Homo sapiens: one gene and its partner. The protein of the gene in region 2 interacts with the protein of the main gene of each other region in a biochemical or structural test. Each region holds a gene or a part of one and is shown on either strand. Other genes may lie near its edges.

Region 1 (15,091 bases), on a different chromosome or scaffold from region 2:
ACAAAAATAGAGGCATGATCTAGAACCAGAAACAGAAGATTACATGTATGAGTATGAACAGAACAAATACTAGAAGGACACAGTTTAAAATTAATTGTGGTTACCTCTGGGTGGTGGAGTAATAGTGACTGCCATTTCCATTTTTGTTTTCCTGTGCTTTCTAACCTTTCTATAATGACATGCATTACTTTCACAAAGAATTTCTTTACACAAAAGCAGGCACCAGCACAAGTGGCTCTGGGCAGGAAGTACGCACCCAGCTCCTCCAGGGAGGGCACGCCGTAGGTCTCGTCGTGGTTCTCCTGGATCTCGGCCCTGCAGCTCTCCATCTGCTGGCTGGTCACCAAGCCCACTGGCTTCTTGGGCAGCTCCATGCGGCTGATGATGGCCTGAAAGCGCTTGTATGTAAGGGGTGGCTTCTGCCCATTCAGCTCAATGATCCTGGGGAGCCCAAAGCATAGCTAGTGTTACCCACATGGCCCTGTGATGTGGGTCCCTGCCCACCCAAAAAAGAACCCAGACTCTGAAGGCTTTGAGGGTGGCTTTCCTCATCCACTCACAGGTCCCATGCCTGAGTGGAAAGGAGGGGGCAAGGGAGGCCGCATCTCCATTTTACCGAGAGGGAAAATAAAGCCCAGAGAGCTGAAGCAGGTGCCTCAGTAATGGAGCAAGGCAGGGCCAGAGCTGGGACTCAATTCCGGGCTCCCTGGTGTTGACGCAGAGCCGCCTAAAGACAGAGACTGACAAAATCTCTAATCACAGAAAAATCCCTACTAGCCTGCTTGGCACTTGGCCTATCTGTCCAAGCTAAGGGAATCCCCATAGGCCTCTACCACCCATGTAAGCCCTGGAGAAAGTTCTTTGATAAGAGCTGAAGACATGTTTTTTTTTTTTTTTTTTTTAACTCTAACATCATAAGGAATAGCAGACATGTTCCTTTCTTGGAAAATCATCCCCTTCTTAGCCTCCATTTATTAGAACATTGAACAGAGAGGTGGAAGACAGCTTATCCTCCCAAATTCAGAGACTGGAGCTAGAGTTCATAGCCACAACTGATACTTAAAGAGAGTCTTGTAGTTTACAAAGTATTTTTCATGACCAGGGAAAACATAACTGCACTCATGCAAGAAGGAAGGAGTATCAGAGGGCGAAGAAGAGAACGGAGGCTGTTTATATAAGGATGAATTGGGATGGTATGGAGCCACATTCCCGGGGCTCTTCTTGGCCAAGAAGTAGCTTACGCAAGGCCCATCTGGCTGGGTGAGTTCATTTCTCAGTTTGCTCTCCCCACGTTAGTGGAGATATATGGTCGGCTGCTGCCTCTGCTATGCCTCCCTCTCCTCTGGCACGCAGCAGGAGGAGGATCTCCACACCCAGCCTCTCCTCCTGAGGGCCCGGCTCACGTGCACAGCTGTGTGACCTGGCTTCTTGGCAGCCAGCACTGGGTTGGGAAGTGGGGGTGGGGAGCGGCGGCGGCTGCTGGCTTGGCAGCAGCAGCAACAGCAGCAGCAGCAGCAGGAGGGTGACAGCTCTGGCATGGCAGGGAAGGGGAGGAGAGGATTTCCTCCTAGAATCTCTGAAAGCACAGAGGCTGTCACCAGGGGAGGAGGCTCCTCTGTAGTTAGCAGCTCCCTGCAGGGATCTCTAGAGCCCTCCCCGCCACCAAGCAACATGGCCTGGAAACCCAGATAGTCATAGAACCTGGGAACTCTTTTTTTTTTTTTTTTGACACAGGATCTTGCTCTGTCACCCAGGCTGGAGTGACGTGGCATGATCACAGCTCATGGCAGCCTCAAGCCCCTGGGCTCAAGTGATCCTCCAACCTCAGCCTCTTCAGTAATTGGGACTACAGGCATGTCCCACCATGCATGGCTAATATATTTATTTTTAGTAGAGACGGGGGTCTCACTATGTTGCCCAGGCTGATCTTGAACTCATGGACTCATGTGATCCTCTCAAAGTGCTGGGATTACAGGCATGAGCCAGCATGCCCAGCCTAGGAACTCATCTTAGGTACAAAAACTGGACCTGTGTGAACAGAGGTCTGTTGGAGGGGTAACAGACAGGGTCCACTGAGGTCAGAGGGCAGCTGTTGAGCAGGATGGAAGTGGGAATATGAGGCACAGGTGGGACTCGGGCATACTAGGAGCAGATTTGTAAATACCCTGAGTGTGGGTCCTCACTGCTTCCATGCTTTGGGCCTAACAAGCCTCTCTGCCACCTCAATGGGGTAAAGCTCTTTGTGACCTGTTCTACAGGTCCTGACTCTGGCCTATTCTCCTCCAGCTTCTAGAAGATGCCATGCCTCCTGGGTCAGGTAGCCCTAATGCTGAACCTCTCTGAGTTCCGCTCAGCAGGGGCCCAAATTACTAACTCTCACAATTGGTAACCTGATCCCTGGGCCCCATCTCTTACCTGTCCAGGTCATAGAGGGTATGAGAATTCTCCGTCACTACTTCCACACCAGCCTCCTTGGCCATCTTCATGATGGCTGCATCCCGTTCTTTCCCAAAGGGTTCAGAGTCATATTCAAAGGTCAAGCGGGTCACTCCCCATTCCTGTGGGGAGAGGATCTGTTATGCTCAACACTGTGTTTGGGGAGGAGGGGGAAGCTGGACTCTCAGTTCCTTCCTGGGAGAGAACAGAGCTAGTCTAGAGACCTATCTGATGGGCAGCAGAAAAAACTAGGAACAGGGATTTGATCTGGAAAGCAAACAAGCTGAGGTTCAGAAAGTTTGAGGAGGGCAGGCAGTGTGGCGAAGCCAACAGCACAGCAACAGTGGAGTTGGGAGAGAGGTAGGCAGCCTTGTGCACTTGCTGTGTCCTTGAGGTAGGAGAATGCAGCAGGAGGCCATAAATACAACGCTCCTGGGAAACCCCCAGTCCCAGAGAGTGGCACTGACTCACAGGTGGGACAGGACCACAGCCTTCTGCCTGCTCAGCAAGCTTTTCCCAGAGCTCCTCACAGCCCTGCAGACTTGTGGCCTAGTTTTCTTGGCAGAGTTGTGCTATGTGAAGTGTCTTAATTGTTTCCACAGCAACACTCCTGAGGCCAATAGCAAACAGAGCTAATAGGTTCCAGCCCTGAGAGAGTCAGGAAAGGGGAAGCGATCCTTAGTCTGGAGGTCAGAGGAAACTGACCAGAGGGGCTACATGTTGAAAAGGAGGAAGTTCTTTCCTAAGCCTTTAGTCATTTCTGGTAGGAATTTCTAGATCTCATAGCAAGCTGGCCCAGTGAATGGTTGTACAGTCAACCCACAGAAAGCCCTAGAGCATGCAACTTGCAAGAAGAAAAACACATTCTCCAAAGTCTCTGGTCATAGTCTCTGAAAGCTCTGAACCACAGGGGCAAATGTCCTAGCCATGCACAGGCTGGTCTGGTCCTGACTCAGCCCTGCCCGGGGACTGGGTCCTTAGCAGGGCCAGTTATCCCTCATTCGAGGATATCAGCATTAAACATTGATTGAGCCCTTGCTATATGCCAGGTACCATGCTTATAGTTCATATAGGTTACATCACTGAATACTCATTGTAACCTGTGAATAACAATATTATTAAATTACATTTTCTCCAAGAAGCCTTCTTGACCTCCTCCTTCAATATAATTCTTCTGCACCTTGTCTTTTTTCCACTGCAGCATGTATTATATGACAATGATACACTTGCCTGTTTCCCCTATTAGTGTGAACTCTCAGAGCAGAAACCATGTTGTCTCACTCATCATCATTACCCTTATACCTAGTATGGGGCCTAGTACCTAGCAGAAGCTCAATAAAAATACATTACATGACTGAATGGATGACCTAGCTATATCTCTGGGATATAAGTGGGTTGGCCTCTGAGTTGCTGGGGGAGAAAAAGGGCAATGTCGAGGGGAGAAGGGAGGCAAATGTATTTATATGGTATGGTGGGTAAGGATACAGCTCTAGAGTCAGAATCCAAGATCGTCACTTATTAACTTCACAACCAATGACTGTTTCCTCTCCTGTAAATCGGGATAGCAGTAGCCACCTCTTAGGCCTGCTGTGAGGAAGAACTCAGTTGATGTAAACAAGCACTGGGAACAGCGCTTGACTCATAGGCAGCCCTCAATGAATGTGGGCAATTACTAGCACTGTGTGATTTGTACATGTATGCACAATTATGTGTGGGGTTACGGGGAGGGGAATTGAAGGATGATGTATTCACTAAGCTGTTTGCCTTGACATGACTTTTCCTTTTGTCTCGGAGTTAGGGTGGGGAGGGGCATGACAATCATTGTGTGCTGCTGAGGGTGATGGCAGTCTGTCCCACAGCCCTCTGTCCATGAGTTCCTGTGCTTCTATGTGGGCCTTAGAATATACTTTTTAAAGGGATTGAGGGAAAAGTGGACTGGCCCCGTTACTGCAAACAGAAACCTATGTGGCACCAAAATGAAGATTTCTATCAATCATTTACCCCATGGGAAACAAGAAAGCTTCCTCAGAAAGGCTGACCTTTTTTTTTTTTTTTTTGAGACGGAGTCTCGCTCTGTTGCCCAGGCTGGAGTGCAGTGGCACAATCTCGGCTCACTGAAAGCTCCGCCTCCCGGGTTCACACCATTCTCCTGCCTCAGCCTCTCGAGTAGCTGGGACTACAGGTGCCAGCCAACATGCCCAGCTAATTTTTTGTATTTTTAGTAGAGACGGGGTTTCACCATGTTAGCCAGGATGGCCTGGATCTCCTGACCTCGTGATCCGCCTGCCTCGGCCTCCCAAAGTGCTGGGATTACAGGCGTGAGCCACCTCGCCCGGCAGAAAAGGCTGACTTTTCCCAATAAGCAGAGCAAAGCAAGATGGGAAATGTACCTTGCTAGACATGAAACCCCACCTCAAAGTCTTGGCCTAGAAGGAACCCTAATAAATCTGGCTGGCTTGAGCCAAGAAAACATTGAAGGAAGCCAGTGGCATCCAGAGTGGAATGACTTACCACATCCTATGTCTGGACTGAGCTGAGAGCTTTCCAACAAGACACTGGTTTCCCAGAATTTTTTTCCTTAACACAGTTTCCATTCCAAGAGCAAGCTAACTGGCTGCCTTTGCTCCCAACTTCTCTAGCAGCAACAGCCAGACCAGCCCTGATGTTTCCATTCCCTCAGTCGGAATATCATATCACTCAGGCTGTGGGGAAACCGTCAGGGACAGAATCTCACTGTCTTCTCTGGGGCTCTGCACGCTTACCTTGAACAGCCTTGGGAACACGTCGGCTGGCTGTCCCCGGACTACAAACAGGCGGGAGTTCAGTTTCCTTAAACTTGTGTCCAAATCTTCCAGAGACTGAAGTAGGAACCTGTGGAGTCCACACAGGCCTTGTTAGTGATAACATCATGAAGAGTGGCTCTCTTTCCTAACAAAGCAGGGAGAAACTGGTTCGCTGTTTATGCCCAACAGGCAGCCTCATGATCACTAGGGCTGGAGAGGCCTGGGTTCCAGCCCAGGAGGGATGTGGTAGTGGATCAGCGCTGCTCTGCTTCAAACCCTGGTCTTGCCACTTACTAGCTGTGTGACTTTAGGCAATAACCTAACCTCTTTGCCTGTTTTCTCGCCGGTAATGTGAAGCTGATGTTAGTACCCATCTCATAAAATTGCTAAGAAAAGAAAATCGAATAATGTGTGAAAAACATTTAGCACTGTGCCTGGCACACAGACATCATGAGATAAATGTGAGCTGTTCCTAGTGTGGTGTTTCTGTGTGATCAGAGGCTAGTCACTTACTCCCTCGCAGTCTCTGGGGCTAGATATAAGTATCTGCCCAGCATGAGGTTGTTGTGAGACTCACGTGGGAGCCATCTGAAAAGCCAGTGCAATACTGTGGTATGAAGCATTAAGGTCCTCTTAGCAGAGGACCAGACTGCCACAGCCGGGAAAATCCTCCTTACTCTGGTGGAAAAGACTCCTTGACTTTCTGCATGCATGCTCTGGGCCATGCGTATTTCTGCTGCCACAGCCTCACAGCCTGCAATGGGTCCCTAGTTCCCAGAGCTTTGTTTGGCAGGTGGCTCACTCTCCAGGCCTCTCCAGGGCTCTGGTGATCAGGTTCTCATCCCAAGAGGGAGAAGGCCTTAAAAGGTACTTCTCAATAGCTATCTTCACATTTTTGTGGGGGTGGGGGTGGGGAAGACCGCAGCTAGGCAAGAACTTCAGCAGGAGACCTGGATCACCAGGGGAAAGGGAAAGGACATTAACATTTGCTGAGTGCCTTCAGCGTTTTATTTTTAAATTAAATTAACATTATAACCAGATAAACTATTCATGTGGCTCAAAATTCCAGTGACAAAGTGGTACATAGTAGAAAGGGTTTTCCCCTCCCTCACTCCCCAGAGGCAACCAAGGTTATCAATGGGATTTTGGTTCTGTCATGCTTTTTAAGTGCATTTCTGCATTTAATTCTCTCAACTATTTTGAAGGAAATAGTACCATCCTTATTTTATAGATGAGGAAACTGAGACACTCAGAGGTGAATTAATTTGTCTAAGACCATAGCTGTTAAGTGACAAAGCTGGGGATTCAGGAACCTAGGGTGGTCACTCTGAAACCCACATTTTCCTCTCTGTGCCCTTTTTTATTTATTTATTTACTTTTTGAGACAGAGTCTCGCTCTGTCGCCCAGGCTGGAGTGCAGTGGCGTAATCTCGGCTCACTGCAACCTCCCCAACCCAGGTTCAAGCGATTCTCCTGCCTCAGCTTTCCGAGTAGCTGGGGTTATAGGTATGTGCACCACACCCAATTAATTTTTTAAACAATATTTTTAGTAGAGATGGGGTTTCACCATGTTGGCCAGGTTGGTCTTGAACTCCTGACCTCAAGTGATCCGCCCTCCTCAGCCATCCAAAGTGCTGGGATTACAGGCGTGAGCCACCGTGAGGGTTCTGTGCCCCATTTCTAAAGATTTCTAGTTGCACACCAACTCTGTTCCAGGGGCTGAGATTCTGCAGGCCCTCAGGAGTTTGGAATCCTGTTCTCTAATAGCAATGTGACTACAGGTAATCCACTGGCATTCTTATCTTCTTCTTCAAGAACCCACAGGTCAATCTGCATATGTCACAGATACCTCTGAGGCACCTGCTATCTACCCCTTGGGTCTCCACCCATCCCCAGCATTTTTCTCTGTCAACAATAGAAATGGCACATCACAGTCACATTCCCTGACTACTGGAGGCTTACAGAAGCAGTGACTATTCCCAGGCTGCCAACTAGAACCAGCCCCCACTGCTGCCTCTGACGTACACAACTTGACACACTCCTACGGCCAATGCCACCGACCCACATTCTAGCATGGGCTGAGCCCTGGCCTCGGCTCAAAGCATCATGTTTGCAAAAGAGCATGAGGAAGACTCTCTGAGAGGTTGGGATGGAAGACAAACAGGTTGAATGCTGCTTTATGCAAACCAAAAGCTCCACCTCTGTGAATTTCTGTTTTTGAAAAATTGTCACCTCCAGAAAAGGAACAGGGAGCTGCAAGTGCGTCACTTGTGTTGGCCTCCCCCAAGCCTCACCACTCTTCTGGAAGGAAAAGAAGAGAAATCCATGCAAATGGTCTCATGCCATCTGAAACCTGGACCCTGCCAGGTAGAATGCCTAGGGCTAGGAGCAGTGATTTAAATTTCATAACCCCAGGACACAGGGTCCTCCATCTGCAGCTCCCAGGAGTGTCCTTGCCATGCGCTTTGGGGGTCTTTTCCTTCACAGTCCACCAGGCTGCATAGGACTTTGATTTGAAGCTATAAATAAGGTTGGAATGCACATGAAATCTAGGTTCCAGAACATGTAGCAATCTGCCTTCTATAGAACTTTATTTTTAGACCTCATTTACTAAAAGGAGAGATTCCTCGTAGCATCTCTAAAGTACAGCTAATCCTATGAGAGCCCTTTTCTTCTTTCACAAAAGATGTTTATAGCAGGAAGCAGAGATGTGAGGCTGGTAGAAGGCCCAACTCTGAACCCAGCAACTAAATAAAAATAATGATAATAATGGCAATGATTAACATTTAATAAGCATTTACAATGACAGGCACTATTCTACTTGTTTCACATACATTACCTCATTTAATTCTCAAACAGCCCAATCAAGTAGGTAATATTATTATTCCCATTTTATAGATGAGGGAACTGAGGCATAGAGAGATTATGAAACTTGCCCAACATCATATACCTAGTAAGTGGCCAGAATTCAAACCTAGGCAATCTGTCAGGCTTGACATGTTCGTTTTTAGCCAGCCACTGCCTCTCAACAAACAGAGCACTGAGGCTGTGCTGCCCTGGGCTCAGCCATTAGGGAGCACCACAGGCCAACTCAAAGGCCAGCAACACCTCTGCTGCCAGATCTTTCCTCCTCTGAGTGTGGTCTGACAATCAGCAGCATTGGCTGTGAAACACCCAGGAGTCTGTTGAAATGCAGAATCTCAGGCTCTAACCCAGACCTCCAAAATTAGAATCTGTATTTTAGCAAGATCCCCTGGTGATTCATTTGCATATTAAAGTTTCACAAGCACTACTCTAGAAAACTGAACTTTACTTCTAGTCTCTGTTACAAGTTGCCTTTCTTTGCTTCTAGTTTGTTTGTACTAAACTTTCTCTCTTGAGCATCCATATTTCTGCCTCCCCTTTGGCCTGCTAGAAATGCTCTGCTTCTTCCAACTTCCCTCCCGAGTCAACCCGGGAAGGGAGGGCTCAGGACAGCCACCACACGGAGGCAATAGACAGGGATGTGAGGAGGGTCCCCAGTATCTCCAGACTCCAGGCAGCCAGAGAATGCAGAGAATGAGAAGCCACCACTAGGGTACTACCTTTGAGGCCTGCCAGGTGACAGCTGTCCCTCACATTTGGAGCAGTGCTGCGACTGGGCAAAGGCTCAGTGGGCAGGTATATGCATTCTTTCACCAGAGAGAACCTTGGGCCTTCTGTGGTCCCTTAGAACCCTCCTCTTTACTCCAATTTCTCTTTACTCCAATGAGGGGACTCTGAAGGAAACTGGCCTGGGCATTGGAGATGGTGGTGTTGGGGGCTGGCACTTCACCCTTGGCAGCTCTTAGCTGAGCTCACATGGCCAAAATTCAGAGCACATGGTCCTGGGAGAGCAAAGCTTACCCTTTGGATTAGACAACATGTGCAACTGAATTACATTATTATGTAAGTGCTCTGGAGCCAGAGGCAGGCAGAACTGGAGAAAACCAGACTGGGATTTCCAAAAATATAGAGAGGACACTATAACTCAGGGACTCTACAAGGCTAGCCTTTTAGAATAAAACAAGCAGATCCTTTGATTAAGTACTCATATTTAGGGAAGGCCTTCTCTAGGAATGGCTGATCCTGTGTTGAGGAATATTTTATTTATTTGTTGTTAATGGGGGGAGGGAGGATAACAGTGAATTCTTTTGGGTCCAGGCTGTCCTTGACCAAGTTCCTCTGCTTCAAGGCAAGGTTATCTAACAACGATGATGATACCACTGGCTGGCACAGATTGGCTACATAGGATATTAATAGAAATTAATTTTTCCTAAGTAATTAAGAGAGCTTAAGCCCCATGGAAAAGGATAACCTAAACTCACAATCTCTGGCAGGGATTTATTTCTAAGTATCTGAGTGATATTTAGAAATACTTAAATATTAAATTCTTATTATTTTAAAAATATATTTATTCTTTCCTAATTTCAAAGAGAAAGATGAAGGTTTTTATCCCCTTTGGGCAAACAGAAACATTTCCTTGGCAGCAGAACAGTAAAGTGCCTCTCTCAGGTACCAATGTGAATAGCTCAGAGAAGCTCCTGTTTCCCTGCCAGTAGACTAGCGTTCTCAATCCACTTCCCAACAGTCCAACAGTGTTCAGCTCTCAGCATCTGGGAAGAGAGACACACTTGTTCTCATGGGGCATCCTGGGAAGTTCCCAGTTTACCTCATTTACCAATTCTAAGAGAAATGGGCTGAGAGGGAACATATTTTATTTCTACAAATTCCCTCTGTCCCAGAAGCTCCTGAAAGAGGCGCAGCACAGAGCCAGGGACAAAATGATTTAAATAAAGTGGAAGAGGAACTGTTGCTAACACCTATCCAAGTTGCAGTGGGGAGAGAAAGGTAATGAAAAACCACAGAGGTCATTTTAAAATCTAGGAACTGCTCACATCTTCCTTTAGTTTATCTTCTTGCTGCAGTACCTCCTTCTAGATGTAGCAAATCTGGGGAAGGTGAGGCTGGGGAAAATGTGAAAGGGCTTAGCCAAGTAGCACTTGGAAAAAAAAAAAAAAAGTCCTGAGGCTCATATAGCTACAATTAGCCCGTAAACTTCCCACCATCACCAGGGCAAGAAGTATGCTAGGCTTCTTCTTGCTAATCAATATGTGTATTTCTTGGTTGCATTTCTCTGTCCGTTTTTACTCTTAGTGCCATTCATAGTTATTTTAATCTGATTTCCTCTGCAGAAAAACATTGTGTGGGAGTCAGTGTAGAAGGAGCAGGAGGGAAACAGAGTCACAGATTTTGGGTCCTCCCCTCCTTGCAGATGGTCCCTTGCCCTTCCCAGGGAGGCTTCTCAGAGACAACTTAAGCAGTTGCAGAGCTAGGACATTATGCTGCAGCACAATTCTCTTAGACCACTCTTGGAATCCAGAAACAACCACGGGACGATTACACATACTACAGTCATGTCAAGATATGGCTGGCTCCAGCCCTCCCCTCTATCCCCAACTTTGTGCACAAAAGAGAATGCAGCTCTGCCTTCAACTGATCCAGGAAGCAAGCAGAATGGTGGAGGTGGTAGGAGTGTGTCTGTTTCCAGGCCCAGGAGCAGTTATTATATTCAATCTGTTTGTGTTACTTCATCTCTTTCTTCTGAATGCCAACATTAATTAGACTTCCTGCCAATGCACTGCAACATACTTCCTAGGTTGCCCGTCTCAGGACTGAGGTTCTCTAGTCCAGTGCTTCTTAAGCTTTGCTGCAATAAGAGCTTTAAAAACCTTAATGCCCAAGGCCGGGCACAGTGGCTCATACTTGCAATCACAGCACTTCGGGAGGTTGACGCAGGTGATTGCTTAAGCCCATGAGTTCAAGACCAGCCTGGAGAACATGGTGAAACCCCATCTCTACAAAAAATACAAAAATTAGCCAGGCATGGTGGTGCATGCCTGCAGTCCCAGCTACTTGGGAGGCTAAGGCAGGAGGATCGCTGAGCCCAGGAGGTCAAGGCTGCAGTGAGCTATGATCATGCCACTGCATTTCAGCTTGGGTTGTCACTTGAGCAGGACCCCGTCTCAAAAAAAAAAAAAAACAAAAAACAAAACAAAACAAAAAATCCCCAAACCTTAATGCCCAGGCCATAACCCAGAACAATTCTAACAGAACTGGGAGAAAGGGGCTGGGCACAGTGGCTCATGCCCTGTAATCCCAGCAGTTTGGGAGACCAAGGTGGGCAGATCACCTGAGGTCAGGAGTTTGAGACCAGCCTAGCCAACATGGTGAAACCCTGTCTCTACTAAAAATACAAAATAATTAGCCAGGTGTGGCGATGGCCACCTGTAATCCTGGCTACTTGGGAGACTGAGGCAGGAGAATTGCTTGAACCCGGGAGGTGGAGGTTGCAGTGAGTCCAGACTGCGCCATTGTACTCTAGCCTGGGCAACAAGAACAAAACTCCGTCTCAAAAAAAAAAAAAAATAGAATTGGGGGAAAGGGGCCCAGGTATCTTTTAAAGACCCTTATGGGATTCCAATGCACAGCAGCCAAGATTGAGAACCACTGCTCTAGTCTGTCCCCTTATCTTATGTTTCTCATGGCACTTCGTTTCACTAAATTATGGTTGTTTGTTGGTAAAATGTAGGCTCCAGGAGTTCTGGAGCACAGACACATCTGCTTATTCACTGCTGTATCCCTAGCAACATCTAGAGCAGTACCTGGCAGATATTAGGCACTTATTAAGTGATCAATTAATATCTGCATTCTTACACAGCCTCTGACTTCAGGATTTGACTCAGGCATCTGAGCCACATTCCTTTTCTTCTTCACTAGATTGATAGCACGATCACAAAATGATGACCCACAAAAATCCATAAACACCTGGTTCCTAGCAAACTGGAGTTTAATCAACAGGAATTTTATTGTTGATTTTTAATCTTCCCTATCAAAAAAGAGTAGGCAGTACTATGCAATGTCCCCCAAAACCCAATAAAAGAAGAAACTCTGTGACAATGTAACAAGAAGGTAGTCGGATTCCATTTGCCTGGCTCCGACTGGTGCAGGGCAAAGTCTGAGGCTTGGCTTAATGTGCACACTAGGGATGGTCATTTGATGATGCTTGTCAAACCCAACCTCCTATCTGTAGAAAACTGGAGCAGAGACAGAGCAATAAGGCAGCCTGAAAACTGTGGGCAGGCTCTCCACAGGACTCCTTAGTTGTTCCTTCTGGGCAGGAGGGGACACTGAACAGGCCCACTGCTAGCAGCACTCACTCTCTTAGCAGGGCACACACCTTGGAGAGAAAAGAATGGTGTGCCGAGAGCCACGGTATCCTGGAAATAACCCTGTCCATCGATGCAACAAGGCCACAAGCAAACATTCCCCAGAACAATGCAAACAAACCGAGCGACTGCCACTAGGTGTTCTGAAGAGCGATGGGTACATTATGTCTCAAAACTCTTTAGTTTGAATACTGTTTACAGTGAAAATACACTAACGACCTGTTCATCTTTTTCCATGATCATGTCGACTCCATCTCCTGGGGGGTCATCAGAGGGGCCCTTGATATCATGGCTTTCCTGCTCCCTAACCTTACCACAACAGTTCATAAAAGTCTCATCTCTAATGGCTCTACTGTCCTCTAAAATCATGACAAGAGGATGACGGGGTGACACTTTGGATTCTTTTAAATTTTTCTATCGAGGTCAAAGCTCCAGAGCAGGGCTTAAAACATTTTGGAGAATCCCCTGGATTCTCTGGAGCTTTGAACATAAAGCGACTCCACCTGAAGACGCCTTTGGCTTCTTTATTTATAATATAGGGGAGAAGACCTTATTTAATGCTAAGCCAGGGTCACTTGACACCCCTAGAGGCAGGACGGTCTGGGTGCAGGGTAGCCAGGATGGGTGGTAGGGCGGATTCAAACGAGCCAGAGGCTTCGGAGTGATCTCCCCGAGCCCAGCAACGGGCTCTTGAAGAATGCGAGCAAAAACCCGTCCCGCCCTCACACTACGTTATCTCCCTTCCGCCCCTCCCTGAGTAGACCGTAAGAGCCCTAGACCAGGAGCCCCTGTTCTGCCACTCACTGGCTACAAGTCCTTGGGCAGGTCGACTTTGGGTCTCCAGGGCTCAAGGGTCTCATCTGTACAACGGGGATCATGATCTCCGTTCCACAGGCAGTTGTGAGGCTCAAAGGGGTAACAGTGCGAACGCGCTTTGTCAGAGGCTGAACCCTGGCCCACCGGCGCGTTAGGACCATGACGAATTACTTCCCCGGTCTCGGCTTCTCCCCTCTGGCCTTCCAGCCGTGGCGGGGTTGGGGGGATCGTGCTGTTCGCCGGTCACCCCAGGGTCAGGGTCCTGGCTGCGTCCCCGCCACCCAGCCCCGGGTCCCCTCACCTCCATCGGTTGATCCCGACTGAGGAGGAGGCCGCGAACCACGGGTCGAGAATGTAAACGCAGCGCACGCAGCGCGCCCCGCGCACGGCCGCCAGCAACGCCGGGTTGTCGTGGAGTCGCAGCCCTTTGCGGAACCAGTGCACCGAAGAGGCGCTGTCCGTGCCGGGCGCTGGCGCCGGGGCCACAGCTGCCGCCGTCGCCACAGTCGCCGCCATGACTGTCCAGACTGCTCCAGCCACCCCCGCTCCGCCCCGGTAGGCGACGTGGACCCCGCCCATAGCCCGCCCAGTGACCTATGACGCCGCAACTCCACCCTTAGTCCCCGCCCACAGGGCCCCAGAGCCCCTCTGCCATTGGCTGAGTGCCTTCCACCTGGCGATTGGCCCAGAGGCGCCGGAACAGGCCCGCCCCCTCACGTTCCTACCATGTGTGGGTCCGCCCGGGTGGAGCTGGCATGCGGACAAGTGACGCAGGCTGGGGCTGTCCGCAGGCTGGGGCTGTCCGCGGAGTGCCGGGAGTAGGCCAAGTCTCAAGGGACAGCGGATCTCTTACCCACGTCCTGTTCAGGGCCTGCTTCTAGAAGAAGCTGCCTGGGCTGGTAGGGGTTGCTGTGACTACAGCCAGTGACTTGCAAGACTGACAGCTGACCTTCCTATTATCACCAACATCGTCACCATCACCATCTACATCATTCTACTACAGCTGCCATTTATTAAGTGCACTTTATATGGCAAGAGACATGATCATCTCCTTACGTAGACGGTCTCATTTACTATTCTCAACTCAGCCCAGTTACATTCATTTAGCGAACCCCAGTGAAAAAGCTGCTGTTGTTTTCGTTTCACAGATGAAGAAAACGGAGGGTGCCGCAGGTTGAGTGACTTATTCAATATCATAAAGCTGCTAAGAGGATTTCACCCAGATTATTCTGATTTCGAAATTTCTGCTTTTATCCACGAAGCTATACTTCTCTTTGTGCGAAGATCCTTGGTAATTCCAAGTGGCAGAGTCTAAGGACGGGGAAGGAGTGCCCTAATATGCAGCAGTAGAGGATTTGGGAGTAAGGACTGGGAATGTGGGGGACTTGAATTGAGATAGTAATTATGCCATCAGATGAATTTATTTTCTTTTAGTCTGTTTAGTAGATCCAGTGTGTGCAAAGCACTGTACTGGATTCCGGGTAGGGTTCAGAGATGTGGAGGACACTGTCCCCATTCTTCTGGGACGCCAGGTGGAACCCTCTTGGGCTAAGACGGCTTAGTCAAGCTGCAGCTTTGGGGTTATCAGGTGGAAAACAGTCTGTTTCAACTTGACCCTAGGTTGAGCCCATGCTTGGAACCCTTCCTGGACCTGGGACAGAGTGATGAAAGCATTTAGTAATTTAGTCTGCAATTTAGTGGCATTAATTGGCACCACTCTCTAAACCAGTGTCACTGCAATCCTAGGCATTCTCTGTCATTTCCAGGGCTTTTCACGAGCTGTTCCAGCAGTCTAGATCACACTCCCTC
Region 2 (14,480 bases):
ATTTTTTTAATTCTTTTCACGATTTTTCCTCTATGTATTTCAGTTCAGATAATTTCAGTTGTCCTTATGTTCACTGATTCTTTGTAACTGCTGTCAAGCCCAACAAATGAATTATTTATTTCTTACATTGTATTTTTTATTGGTAGCATTTTCATTTAGTTGTGTTTTTTTTAATAGACTTTTCATCTCTGTGTCTCATGTGTTCATGCATGTTGTCCACCTTTTCCACCAAGTCCTTTCACACATTTACCATGGTTATCTTAACGTCTCTGTCTGATAGTTCCATCATCTGGTTCATCTCTGAGTCTGCTCTGTTACCAGTTCTTCATGTGTTTTACAATTTTATTGTATGCCAGCTATTTTGTATAAAAGAACATTAGAGACTGAGGTAAATAAAGTTTTTCCTCAGAAAATGGCACACTTAGGCTGGGCACCATGGCTCAGGCCTGTAATCCTAGCACTTTGGGAGGCCAAGGTGGGCAGATCGCTTGAGCCCAGTAGTTCAAGACCAGCCTGGGCAACTTGTAGAAACCCCACCTCTACAAAAAAAATACAAAAATTAGCCAGGCATGGTGGTTGGCACCTGTAGTCCTAGCTACTTGGGAGGCTGAGTGGGGAGGATCACCTGAACCTGGGAGGTTGAGGCTGCAGTGAACTGTGTTCGAGCCACTGCACTCCAGCCTGGGTGACAGAGTGAGACCCTGTCTTAAAACAAATAAACAAATAAGAAAATGGCACACATTTCTCCTGTTGAGCCACAAGAGGGAGGGGCTGTGTGAACCTCATCTGTAGTTTAGGGGCAGCTTTTATTGGAGTTTCTTTACCACCGGCTTTAAATGTGTTCAGAGTAGAATTAGGACTTTCCCTTCAGCAGAGCTTGGGATCTTAGCCCTGGCAGAATTCCAGGGATGTCTTTATGTTTTAAAGTCGCCAGCTTTTGGAACTGTGGGAGGCCTCTGGTATTCAGCCCTGCCGCCAGACTGTGGGGCCACTGGGGTGCTCTCCGCTCTCCAGTCTCGCCCCCACTTCTGTACCTCAGGAGGTTTCTCTGCACCTCACTCCCTCGCGCCCAACCTTCCATGAAGCCCGTGTGAGGGAGTTGGCAGGGGGCAGAGGCGGGCTGTGCTGGGGCTCCCTGGAGTCCTCATCTGTCACGCCAGTCCCCACACGGTCATGAACTTCCACTCATTTCCCCTCACGCAGGGCATCCCGCCCTGCTGCCTCGCACCAGGGTGAAAGCTGTGGGCTCCTTCCCCAAGGAAGGGCTCGTCCTGTCTGCATTTTGATTAATTTAGGTCCCTTTGCATTGCCAGCTCTCAGATGGCTTTACCTTTGATTTTGTTGCTTGTTTGGCTTGTTTTCATCTTTAGGGCGAGACAGTCTTTTGTAACTTTTCTACCTTCTGACTAGAAGTGGATGCCGCCTGCATTTTCTTAACACCTTTTTCCCCAGCTTATTTTGGAAATCGTCAGACCTACAGAGAGCTGAAAGAACAGTACAGTTAACATCTGTCCACCCTTCACACAGATTCACCACTTGTGAACATTTTAATGCATTAACTTTATGTGTCTGTCTACTTATTTATGCATTTGTATGTGTATACTTTTTTCTTTTTTTTCCCCTAACCCATTTGAAAGTAAGTTGCAGCCATCATAACCTGGATCTCCCAAAAACAAAGACGTCCTCTTGTGTGACCACAGTTGAATTGTCCTACCTTAGAAATTCATCATTGATGTGATAATACTGACTAAGGTAGACAGTCCACAGGCCATCCGGAAAATCTGGAAACATTGACAAATATGCATGTCATTGTCAAGGTCATATCCAATCTGTGAAAAATAAATCATCTGCATTTCTAGACATCTATTAGTATTTTAATTCTCCCCAGCTCTCCCCAAAACATCCTTTTTAGCTGCTTTTAAAAAATTCAGCGTCCGTTGAAAGCACCAGTGTTGCCTATGACCTGCCTTTTTACCTCTTTTTACCTAGAAAGTCTCACTTCTTTTTTGGGAGACTCTTTTATGACAGTGACATTGCGCTGTGTCCAGGCCAGTTCTTTTATAAAATGTTCTACGATCTGGATTCATGCATGTATTTCCACTTGATGCTGAGTATTTTAAGATAATTCAAGAATCAGGTTTTCGTACAAAACAATCGCAATGCTTCGGCACTGCACAGGCCACAGAAGCCTGCGGCTGCCTCCGGCCCCGCCTGCTCCCGCTCCCCCAGGCCTGCCCTGCCCTTTTTCTTCTCTCCCTGCTTCTCCCTCGCCCTCAGCCCAGCAGCGTCTCATGGGCAGTCCAGGCTTTCGGGGCCAGGTTGGGCAGCAGCCCCTGCAGCCGGTCCCACTGAGTCTGCCCTGCCTTCCAGATTCTGGTACAGGTCAAAGAGGTCCTCTCCAAGCTGAGCACGCTCGTGGAAACCACACTCAAAGAGGTGCGCGTTGTGGGGCAGTGCGGGGAGGGCCAGCGGGGGTGGGCTCTCTGGCTGGGGAGGGGCCACAGAGCTCAGGAACTCACGGATCCACCTCCCTCTCTCCCTCACACCCCACCCCTGTGCCTTTCCTCCTGAATATCCCATTTCTCTCCTGGCCTCTTGGTCTTCGTTTGTGTTCCCTGCTTGTGTCTCTTGCATGATTCTTCTTGGTCTACTGTGAACTCTTACCCTTCCCCTCACCTCTGCCCCCTCCCCACGTCTCTCTCTCGGCCCGTCCCTCTCCGGTGGCCTCTTTTCTTTCAGACAGAGAAGATTACAGTATGTGGGGACACCCATGGCCAGTTCTATGACCTCCTCAACATATTCGAGCTCAACGGTTTACCCTCGGAGACCAACCCCTATGTATCCTTCTCAGCAGAGCCACCCTCTCCCCACCTCCACCCCCAGCCGCAGCCTCAGGTCTGCACAGAGTGGGAGGAGCCCTTGCCAGGAAAAGACGTGACCTTGGAAAGGAGAGGCCTGGCCATGCTGGGGCACCAAGGTGTGGGTGGAGCTGCAGGCTGGCCATGCACCCCAGGCTCCAGGCTCGGACAGGCCTGGGCCAGCACCCACCTGCTGTGTGACCTAAGCTGGTAGCTCAGTCTCTCTGGGTCTTGGCTTGTCTTCGTCTGCCTCAGGATCACATTTGAATGGCACCTGGCACTGGCCACACTTGGGTTCCATCCTGGCTTTGCCACTTCCCAGCTGTGTGACCGAAGCAGGTTACTTCACTGCTTGGTGTCACAGTTTCCCCATTTGCAAAGAGGGATAATAATATGTGCAACCTTGTTACTCAGCAGTTACTGAGAGGACAGGTTAAGAACAGGGCCTGGCCCACACCTGATGCTATCTAAGTATTTCCCCGTGTTATGGTATCTGCTCGATGAACGGCCACTTGTAGGGCCACTAGGCCTATGCATTGTTGAGTGGGAGGGCCCGTGTCCCATCTCCCCCATGGCTCCAGGCCTCTCTGAGGAGAGCTGAAGGAGGTGGACTGACTAGTCCCCGCACCTCCCCGCCACTGGCTTTCCGGGAGACAGGAGGCAGGGTCCTCAGTGCCATACTACTGAGGCTCAGCGGCCAAGCTCTGGCTGGAGCCACGGTGAGGAAAGGATTAGAAACCCAGATCCCTTGAGCCCTGCCAAGTCCTCACTCCCTGGGAGGTGCTGACAGGAGGCTTGAGGCCAGGCAGGAGCAGCCCATCTGGCCCATCTTCTGCCACCACCCCCAACCCCACCGCACCGCACCCTTCCCCTCCACGCTTGCCATGTTTTCCTCAGCAGGACAGATATTTAATGGTGACTTTGTGGACCGAGGCTCCTTCTCTGTAGAAGTGATCCTCACCCTTTTCGGCTTCAAGCTCCTGTACCCAGATCACTTTCACCTCCTTCGAGGTGAGCTGGGAAGTGACAAGGTTTGGGTTCATTGTGGGGTCCTGAGTGGGGCACTCACTCTGCAAGGATAATAGTTGCAGCTGTATTTATTTTGTGGACTCGGAGATCATGCACAGGGCGACCTTTTAAGATTGAGTATGTAGTGCACTGCACAAAAGCATCACACCAAAGGACGCGTTTACATCATAGATAGTGTAGAAATGGATGTTTACTCTGACCATTTTTCAGCAGATGGCAAACAAGGGTGTGAGGATGGGCCCCTTATTCTAATTTGCACAAGGGCATGAAACAGGCTCCTGGGTGGCCCTAAATCTGGCACTAAAGCTGAGTGACTGAGTGAACAGACCAGGGCTCGAGGGTGGGAGTAAGGAGACTGTTGACGAGGCAGTTGTGCCCCCTCAGATTCAGGCTTGGTGTCAGATTTGGGTTCTCTTGATTGAAGTAGAGCCCGGAGCTGAGTGTGCTGGTTCACACCTGTAATCCCAGCACTTTGGAAGGCCCAGGTAGGAGGATCACTTCAGCCCAGGAGTTTGAGACCAGCCTGGGCAACACAGTGAGACTTTGTCTCCAGTAAACATTTTTTAAAAAGGCCAGGCGCAGTGGCTCATGCCTGTAATCCCAGCATTTTGGGAGGCCAAGGCAGGTGGATCATCTGAGGTCAAGAGTTCGAAACCAGCCTGTCCAATGTGGTGAAACCCCGTCTCTACTAAAAATACAAAAATTAGCCGGGCATGGTGGTACACGCCTGTAATCCCAGCTGCCTGGGAGGCTGAGGCAGGAGAATCGCTTGAACCCAGGAGGCACATGTTGCAATGAGCCGAGATTGCGCCACTGCACTCCAGCCTAGTCGATAGAGTGAGACTCAGTCTAAAAAAAAAAAAAAAAGCCAGGCATGGTGGCACCGTGCACCCGTAGTCCCAGCTTCTTGGGTGGCCAAAGTGGAAGGATTGCTTGAGCCCAGGAGTGTAAGGCTGCAGTGAGCCATGATCACACCGCTGCACTCCAGCGTGGGCAACAGAGCAAGACCCTGTCTCTTTGAAAAAAAAAAAAAAAGTAAGAAACTTGGAAGTAGAGCCCAGAGTATTTGCTGGAGGAACAGACACAGGTGTGAGACAAAGAGGGAACGAAAGGGGCCCTCTAGGGTTTTGGCCGGAGTATCTGGAGGGCTATGGCTGCCAGTGACGAAGACGGGAACATGTAGAGCAGGGTGTGGCCAGGAGCTGAGGAGCTCCCCTTTGGATGTGGCTGAGACTCAGGAGACATGGGATGTGGGTGGGGTTCCAAGGGGTGTTGAAAATGTAGGTTTCTTGGTGTCCAGATGAGATTAGACAAGAGGAGCTCACTGGGATGTGAGGGCCACACAGGGGAGGCCCTGCCCATGGCGGGGCCGGGGTGAGTTGGGAGGTGAGTGATAGGCTGGGGCGAAGCCTGCATGCCCGTGTCCCTGGGCTCACAGGGTTCACGCAGCAGTGTCCAGCACAGGGTCAAAGCTCAGGAAGCCCGACTGTGGGCCTCGTTGCAGGAGGCAACAAGTGCTCAGGCCGAGAAGTCAGACAAGCAGAGTCTGAGCAGATGCGAGACTGGGCAGCCTTCTCCTTGCCCCCAAGCTCTGGAAGGGAAGAAGGAGGCCGGGTGCTTGTGTCTGAGACAGAAGGATGGAGCTCAGGGTGGGGTGGGCTGGGGCACATGTTCTGTAGATGGGCCTACTTTTTGGTTTTGAGACGGTCTTGCTTTGCTCTGTTGCCCAGGCTGGAGTGCAGTAGCATGAGCATAGCTCACTGCAGCCTCTGCTTCGTGGGCTCAAGTGATCCTCTGGCCTCAGCCTCCCAAGTAGCTGGCACTATAGGCACGCACCACCATGCCCAGCTAATTTTTAAAATTGTTTTATAGAGAGGTCTCAGTATATTGCCCAGGCTGGTCTCAAATTGCTGGGCTCAAGCAGTTCTGCCTTGGCTTCCCAAAGTGCTGGAATTATAGGCGTGAGCCATGGTGCTTAGCCATGGACCTACTTTTTGTCAAGATTCCCCCCTTGGTACCTCCAGTCTGGAAGGCACCGCAGTGGCAAGTGCGAGGCCCATGGGGGCAAGGGACGCATGCACAGTTCTGGGCCTTGAGGGTGCCAGGCTGGAGGACACTGATGTACCTGGAGGCTGAGCTTTCTCTTCTGTCCCCGTGTTGGCCAGGCAACCACGAGACAGACAACATGAACCAGATCTACGGTTTCGAGGGTGAGGTGAAGGCCAAGTACACAGCCCAGATGTACGAGCTCTTTAGCGAGGTGTTCGAGTGGCTCCCGTTGGCCCAGTGCATCAACGGCAAAGTGCTGGTGAGGACGGCGCGAGCCCTGAGTGTGGGTTCCCCACCCAGCCACACCTGGGCAGATGTGCTGGTGAAGGAAGTTGGGGCCTGTGGGTGGGTGGCACCTTCCCTCACAGCGGCATCCCCCATCTCCCCAGATCATGCACGGAGGCCTGTTCAGTGAAGACGGTGTCACCCTGGATGACATCCGGAAAATTGAGCGGAATCGACAACCCCCAGATTCAGGTGAGCAGCGCGGGGCCAGGTGTCTCCAGCAGAAAGGGGCAGCCTGGGCTGAGCTCTCCCCTGCAACCCAGCCCTGCCTCGGAGGATGGGCTTTGTGCCCTTGGCAAGAAACAGCGGGTCTGAGCCTCAGTTTCCTCACCTGCGACTTGGGCCAGTGCACCTCCTTCATGGGGCTGTGATGGCAAGCACGGTCGTGACCATGGTGCGGGGTGAAGGCACGGTGACCGCCGAGCACACCTGTCCTTATTTATTTGTGAGTTCAGCTGTGGAACCCTGGAAGGAGGGGAGGTCTTGGGGCTCCTGTGCTAGTGACGGGCACACTTCAGAGAGTTCACCCACAGGTGCACACGCACGTGCACACTGTGAGTGCTGCAGAGGACATGGATTGGGTGGGCTGGTGCTGGGTGCTCAGGAAGGCCTCTCCAGGGAGGCGAGGTTTGAGCTGACACTGCGGGAAGCAGAGGCATCTGCCGTGCACAGAGCCTGGCGAGCATATTCCAGGCTTGAGGAGGGGTCCTAAGGCAGGGAGAAGTTGGCGAGTGGGCAGGGCTGTGCTTTGAGGGCTGACATTGGACATGGGGTTCACTGGGCCCAAATCCTATGGCGCTTTACAGGCCCCAGTGAGGAACTTTGTTCCTAGGGCAGTGCGGAGCCACCAAAGGCTTTGAGTGGGAGAGGGGCCTGATCTGAATAGTGACATTGAAAGCTCTATCTGGCTTCGGGGCCACAGGGGATTGAATGGGGTCTGGAGGGCAGATCAGCAGAGAGGGTGGGGGTGGCTCAGAATCACAGTCACCTGTCCTGAATGTCCATGTCCATGCTGGATGTCCCCTGCCCAACACCCACCCAGGCTGGGCTGTGGGGTCAGCACCTGGCCGGGCCAGGAGGTGGCCTGTGAGTGACCACCCCCGGGGAGGTGGACGAGTCCCTAATGTTTCCCTCGCTCCCCACCAGGGCCCATGTGTGACCTGCTCTGGTCAGATCCACAGCCACAGGTGAGTCTAGGGTGGGGTGCAGGGCCGGCGGGTGTGGGCTGTGGCAGCAGGTGGAGGCAGACAGTCACCCTGAACCCCTGTCTCTCCCTTCTGCCCACCCTCAGAACGGGCGCTCGATCAGCAAGCGGGGCGTGAGCTGTCAGTTTGGGCCTGACGTCACCAAGGCCTTCTTGGAAGAGAACAACCTGGACTATATCATCCGCAGCCACGAAGTCAAGGCCGAGGGCTACGAGGTGGCTCACGGAGGCCGCTGTGTCACCGTCTTCTCTGCCCCCAACTACTGGTATGTCTTTGCCTTTCCAGCCCAGGGCCTCTACCAAGCCACGGGTTTTTGTCTTGGTTTTTGTTTTGCCTTTTTATGATGGAACATTTCAAAGACAGGCAAGAGCAGATAAAAGAACATGACGAACACCCCCGTATGTGTCACCCACCCATGCAGCACCAGTGGGGCCAGCCTGTGAGTGCTGACCAGCTGCCCTGTGTTACAGCAAGCCCCTGGCACTTCACCTTTCTCCCACTGATTGCCCAGCACTTTTCAGAAGGAAAGGGATCTTTTTCTTAACCACAATATCGTGTTTACACTTTTGAGTGCTGGCTGGGCATGGTGGCTCACGCCTATAATCCCAGCACTTTGGGAGGCCGAGGTGGGCGGATCACCTGAGGTCAGGAGTTTGAGACCAGCCTGGCCAACATGGTGAAACCCCATCTCTACTAAAAATACAAAAATTAGCAGGGCGTGGTGGCACACACCCGTAATCCCAGCTACTCAGGAGGCTGAGTCAGGAGAATTGTTCGAACCCGGGAGGTAGAGGTTGCAGTGAGCTGAGATTGCACCACTGCACTCCAGCCTGGGGAAGAGTAAGACTCCATCTCAAAACACACGCACACGGGCAAGAGTAAGACTCCATCTCAAAACACACACACACACACACACACACACACACACACACACACACACACACACACACACACACACACACACACACACACACACACACACACACACACACACAGTGTTGATCCCTTGCCCCCACCCGAATCCTGCCAAGTTCTCTTTCTCCTGGTCTCTCCTAAGTGTCTTTTCCAGCTGACTTCTTCCAGACAGGACCTAAACAAGGACCACATTTTCAGTCTCTTTGCCTGTGAGTTCCCTGTCTCTCCCCACCCGCATCATTTATTTGTTGAAGAATAGGTTGCTGCCTGCTGTACGAGTCACCTGTGTCCTGGACTAGGCTGACTGCATCCCCGTGGTGCCGTGTGACATGTTCCTCTGTTCCCTGCATCTCTGGGTGGGCAAAGCTAGAAGCGTGGTCAGATTCCTAGTGGGGTCTGGCGAGCATCCACCTCCATGAGCTATGCCCTGCCCCTTCCTGCTCCTGCTTCCTGCACTCCCACCCTCTTTTCCCCATCCCCATCCTCCTGCCCCTCCCATTCTTTCCCCTGGATTCGTCTTTCCCATCTCTGTCTCTCTGTCCATCTGTGTCTGTTGTGGCTCTGTCCCTCCCTCTCCCTCTGTCCCTTCTTGCCCAGCCATTCCTTCTCTTAACCCACCAGCCCCACCCAGCCCTGACCACACTGTCCACTCTGCTCCTGTCCCTGCAGCGACCAGATGGGGAACAAAGCCTCCTACATCCACCTCCAGGGCTCTGACCTACGGCCTCAGTTCCACCAGTTCACAGCAGTGGTGAGTCACCCCTCAGGGCCCCTGCCCCTTCCATCCCGGCCTGGGGACAAGGAGGCTGAGACCCTGGTAAGGGGCAGGGGTAGGTTCTGCCGGTGGGTGCTCAGGGGCTCTGTTCTGACTTCTGTCCATCCCACCTGCCCTGGTCCCACAGCCTCATCCCAACGTCAAGCCCATGGCCTATGCCAACACGCTGCTGCAGCTAGGAATGATGTGAGGTGACGGGCGGGGCGGCCTGCATCCCAGGGCCCCTCCAATCCCACCGGACCCAGGCCCTGGGCTAGGGGCAGAGCAGGCCCCGCCCCAGGGCAATGTTGGACCCCCTTTTACTTTGTAAAGTTTGTATTTATTCCCCTTTAGGTTTGCAGAGGGGGTAGGGGCAGAGTCAGGGGCTGGCCAGAGGGTCTGCTCCCTGGACAGAGAGGAAGGAGGTGGAGCAGCTGGGGCTGGGGGCACAGCCTGGGCATTCTGTGGGGAGGCCGTCCTCGGGGTGGGGTGGGGCCGAGTGGCTGCCCTGCCCCCCTCATTTGCATGGCTCCTCCCCCACTCAAGCAATAGGGCCCCGCCATAGGAAGACCCCCAGAGAGAGGGTCAGCAGGGGGGCCCCGCCTGCGCCTCCCCTCCTATAGCCCCATGGTGGGGCTAGGCTGGGGCTCACCCCCCTCCCCAGCTATTTTATGTCTGTAATTAAATATGTTAAAATAAAGTCATTATCGGAAGTCAGCTTGTCTCTGGATGGTGGAGCCGAAGGAGCTGCCCGGGTTGGGTTACGCCTGCTCAGGAGATCCGGAGGGTGGGGAGGCCGCAAAGTCCCGCTGGCCGGGCCCACCCAGCTCTGGGCTGACCGCCCAAGTGGCCTCTGCCTCTGCCCAGCACCGTGGGCTCCTGGGGAGAGTTCTGCCCCCTGGGTGGGGCGATGAGGCCAGCACTGAGTGGAGCGGAGCGGAAGCTGAGGCATAGCCTCATCCTTTGCTGGCTCCAGCAACAAGCATGACAGTGCCGCTCCCTGCTCCCTGCTCAGGGTAGGCCCAGCAGTGGTTCTTGACATCACACGATGAGGCGCGCATCTCCCGTCATCCAGGGAGACCAGAGGACCCTTGTCTCACTCCCAGTTGGCTCTTAGTCACAGGTAACGTTGGATTCCATTCAGGCTGCCCTGCCAGGCCTTGACCCTCCAGAGAGATTGTGTTTTCAAGTTTGAGCTCCTCTGGACTCAGCTTTCTCCAGTGGTATGTGGCACTGGGGGATGGTCTACAGCAAATGACTCCTGCAGGGCCGAGTCCGGGAGTGTTTGGCCCTTTGGAGACCTCCCAGGCAGACATGAGGCGTCCGCGGTCCTGATTGCGCGTAGGCGCTGGGGAGGTGTTCTCTAAGGCCCATCAGCCTTACAGTAAGTGCACCGCCTTCTGGGGTCAGGTGCGCCACGGTCCAGAAGCCAAGTACACATGGCTTCAGGAAAACAGGCACGAGGCCCAGGTTGCCAGTGCCATTCATTTCTCCTGGGAAAGACAAAAACAGCCACCATGACTGTCGGGAGGGTGCTTCAGACCTGATGGGAGTCAGCCAGGCGGGCAGCTGTGAGGCTCTCAGACTCACTGGGTGTCGGGGTTCCCTGCCGCTGCAGTTCAGGAGGTCTCCCAGGACCCGGTATGGTCATTATCCTCACAGTGAGGGCCTATTATAGCAAGAATATGGGGATGAGAATGAGAGGAGGGAAGAGGCAGGCGCAAGCGTCCCACTGCCCTCTCCCGTGGAGCTGTGTGGACAGCGCTTATTTTCCCCGCATGGATGCGACAGCGTGCTGGAGTGTGGCCACCTAGGGAAGCTCACCCGGGCCTCTGCATCCAAGGTTTTCTTCAGGGGTTGGTCATGGGGACTGCTCACCCCGCGTGGCTGACCGTAGCCTCCAGAGAGACCCACGGCCCCCACCCTAAATCACATCCTTAGCATAGACTGTCCACTGTGGCCCAGGGCCCCAGATAAAGAGACGCTCCTATGAGGTAGGACACACCGAGGGCTCTCCGGTGACCTCCCAGGAGCCAGCCTTTTCTTCCGTCAGGGCTGCAGCCATGCTGCACAGCTGCATAACAAACACCCTAACCCCCCCCACCCCCTCAGCTTCAACAACGAATGCCTTGCTGTCTTCCTCAGTTCTGTGATTGGCTGGGCTTGGCCGTGCAGGGCGCACCTGAGGGCTGAGGCATTTGTGGTCGGGGGCATTTGGGGCTGGAGGCATCTGAAGACTCGCCCGGCTGGACTCCGTGGGGGCTCACTCCCGTGACGGCAGTTGCTGTGGGCTGTTAGCTGGGCTGGCACTGGAACGCCTGCGTGTGGCTTCCATGTGGCCTGAGCTTCTCTCAACGTGGCAGCAGGGTCCCTCAAGGGAGCATTAAATGTTTATATTTAAGTCAACCAACTGCATTCCAGCTGTAGCTCTTGCCTCAGCAATGTCCTGCCACACATTCAATTGTCTCTTTCATTTCCTTCAATCTGGAACATTTCCTCAGCCCCGCTTTGTCTTTGACATGGACGTTTGTGATGATCACGTTCCTCCCGCTCCCCGTGTCTGAAGAGTGCTCCCTGACTGGCTGCCGTCTCCTCCCTGTCGGGTCTGGCTGGGTTCTCCAGAGGGAGTGCTGCGGAGGGGACACAGCAGAGGCCCCATGCTCGTGATGTATGTTGCAGATCATTTTCCCCCATTCTGTCCTTTTTTGTTAAATTGTGGTAAAAAGCACATAACATAAACTGTACCACCTTAACCATTTGAAAGTATATATCCCAGACTGTCTTTTATCTTTAGACTTCACTTGTGGTTTGTTGCCACAGTACAAGTTTATTTTTATGAAGCCAAATGTATCAGTATTTCTTTAATTGTGCTGGCGTGGGAGTCAGTACTTCTCCCTACACCCGGGTTTCAGGGAAGTTCCCTCGGGTTTCTTCTGGTTTTTGTACAGTTTTCTTCTTTATGTCAAGATCTCCAGTCTATTTGGAGTTCCTTCTTGTATGTGATGTGAGGAATGGATCTAATTTTATCTTTTTCCAAGTGGATATTGGAGGAAGTTTTTAAACGAGAAGAGAAATTCAGAAGATGCTGCAAGAGATGGGACCTTTACGGCGATCAATGTCTCAGTAAAGTCAGAACAAAGAGACTCAGGCACACCCACCACAAGTACCAAAACTTTGAGCAGATCAACGCCACAGAGCTGGGCTCGGGAAAACGGAAGGGCCATGGGAGGGAGGGAAAGCATTTAATGGGGGAAGGTCTGGGTAAGCCGATAAGTTTTGGGGAATCAAGGGGGATAAATACACGTGAGTAGGGCTCTGAAGTTAGAGGCAATGAATTGACCAAAAAGAAACAGTAACTTCCAAAAGGGAGTGTGACGGAGAGATGCCCATAGACGCAGGTGATGAACATCCAGGGCTGGCCGGGCACGGGGGCTCACGCCTGTGATCCCAGCACTTGGGGAGGCCGAGTCATGTGGATCGCTTGAGCACAGGAGTCTGCTAAAATAGGGGACACCACTCTAGTTACAGTTTGGATCAGGGTCATCACGCTGGGGACGTGCCAGGCACACGGAGGTGGGGGAGATGCTGGGGGCTGGGGGCAGGTGTGGACACTAAGCAATGGTGTCAGAGGCTGCTGGGGAGTCTCAGGGTCTGGCAGGAGCAGATGTGGACTCCCAGGAGTCATGGACATGAATTAGGGGTCCTAAGAAGCCTCGCCACTGACAAAGGAAGCTGTGAAGGGAAGACCAGAGAACCGGGGGGAGCGGGGGTCTTAGGTGCTCCCCACCCCATCGACCAGGATGGACCCAGGCATCTGCCCAGCTGGATGGAACAGAGACTCCAAGGCAGGAAGGACCCGAGTTCTGTCTCCCTGTCGTTCTCTTGGACCCTTTCACGCTGTCTTTCCCCACCCCCATCTGTCAATGGCCATGATTAGATCACAGACCCAAGCTCTGGCCACCAGGGAAGGCAGAAAGATGACCTAACCTCCATAGCACCGGGTGGGGCCCCTGCCTCCCACCTGTGGGGGGTGTCAGTTGCTTGGCAGCCAGAGGGACAGAGGCCACCACCCCTCCCCTCCCGGCCAGCACCACAGATGGAGAAACTGGGCCCATGGTTCCCTCTGCCCACACCCTCCCATGGCTCTCATCTCCGTGGTCCAGCGGATGGGGGGAAACAGGTTGAGGAATTTGGACACTGGAAAATGGGTGGAAGCAGTTAAAACCTGAGGGGACCAGGAGGGGCAGGGTGGGCACCCATCTCAGATGAGTCGAAGAGCAGCAGGGTGATTTTCCATGCCCGGCCCCTTGGCTCTGTTCTAAGAGTTTACACGCATTAACATTTCATTCTAACTCAGTGAGTCAGACACTTTTCAGATGCCCATTTTACAGATAAGCAAGATAAGAAGTACAGAGAGGTTAAGTTACATGCTCAGAGTCACACAGCCAGCAAATGGCAGAACGGGACTTGAGCACCAGCTGACTGGCTGCAGAGTCTGTGCCCTGAGCCAGTTTGCAGTAGCATTGAGCACTTTATGTGTCAGGCAGTTTACAGGCACTTTGGGTCCTCGCAACAGCCCCATTTTACAGATGAGGAAACTGAGGCACAGAAGCAGCAATATACCTGAGGACACACAACTAGGAAGGAGGATAGAGCATATTCGGTGGGAGATAATAAAACCTTTGATGCCAAATGCTAAAATAATATTTGGGGAAAAGCTTTTGACCCCTTTTAGCAAACAAAAATTTTATGATGGCAAGAATTTATCCTGCTGGTTAATCTGATTTTTCCCTTTTTAGTACATGGGTGTTCCCTAACCTTACCCCTGAAGAGAAAACTCATGACTTCCCCCAGAGCTGTGCATTCTCAAAGCTTTTTTTTTTTTTTTTTTTTTTTTTTTCCTGAGATGGAGTCTTGCTCTGTCGCCCAGGTTGGAGTGCAGTGGCGCAATCTCGCTCACTGAAGCCTCCCCTCCCCCTCCTGGGTTCAAGCCTCGTAAGTAGCTGGGATTACAGGCGTGTGCCACCACGCCCAGCTAATTTTTGTATTTTTAGTAGAGACGGGGTTTCCCCATGTTAGTCAGGCTGGTCTCGAACTCCTGACCTCAAGTGATCTGCCCGCCTCGGCTGCCCAAAGTGCTGGGATTACAGGTGTGAGCCACTGCGCCCGGCCTCAAAGCATTTTTGTTAGCGGTCTTTTTAAGATTTCTCCACCGGGTGTGGTGGCTCACGCCTGTAATCTCAGCATTTTGGGAGGCCGCGGCGGGCAGATCACGAGGTCAGGAGTGTAACACCAGCCTGGCCAACATGGTGAAACCCCGTCTCCACTAAAAATACAAAAAAATTAGCCGGGCATGGTGGCACGTGCCTGTAATCCCAGCTACTC

What was found.
Region 1: the proteins of PPP5C (region 2) and CRY2 form a complex in vitro, tested with the Homo sapiens proteins (one study listed by BioGRID).

What each region holds. Positions count from the first base shown.
Region 1 is NC_000011.10:45,846,198-45,861,288, reverse strand, and holds the start of CRY2 (cryptochrome-2), read right to left. Parts: upstream 13,815-15,091; 5' UTR 13,799-13,814; coding exon 13,584-13,798; intron 5,308-13,583; coding exon 5,199-5,307; intron 2,559-5,198; coding exon 2,416-2,558; intron 442-2,415; coding exon 257-441; intron 1-256. UniProt on the Homo sapiens protein: Transcriptional repressor which forms a core component of the circadian clock.
Region 2 is NC_000019.10:46,381,041-46,395,520, forward strand, and holds the end of PPP5C (serine/threonine-protein phosphatase 5), read left to right. Parts: exon of another isoform or gene 1-1,484; intron 1,485-2,370; coding exon 2,371-2,436; intron 2,437-2,739; coding exon 2,740-2,838; intron 2,839-3,763; coding exon 3,764-3,869; intron 3,870-6,052; coding exon 6,053-6,195; intron 6,196-6,325; coding exon 6,326-6,413; intron 6,414-7,367; coding exon 7,368-7,408; intron 7,409-7,512; coding exon 7,513-7,691; intron 7,692-9,010; coding exon 9,011-9,092; intron 9,093-9,243; coding exon 9,244-9,306; 3' UTR 9,307-9,935; downstream 9,936-14,480. UniProt on the Homo sapiens protein: Serine/threonine-protein phosphatase that dephosphorylates a myriad of proteins involved in different signaling pathways including the kinases CSNK1E, ASK1/MAP3K5, PRKDC and RAF1, the nuclear receptors NR3C1, PPARG, ESR1 and ESR2, SMAD proteins and TAU/MAPT.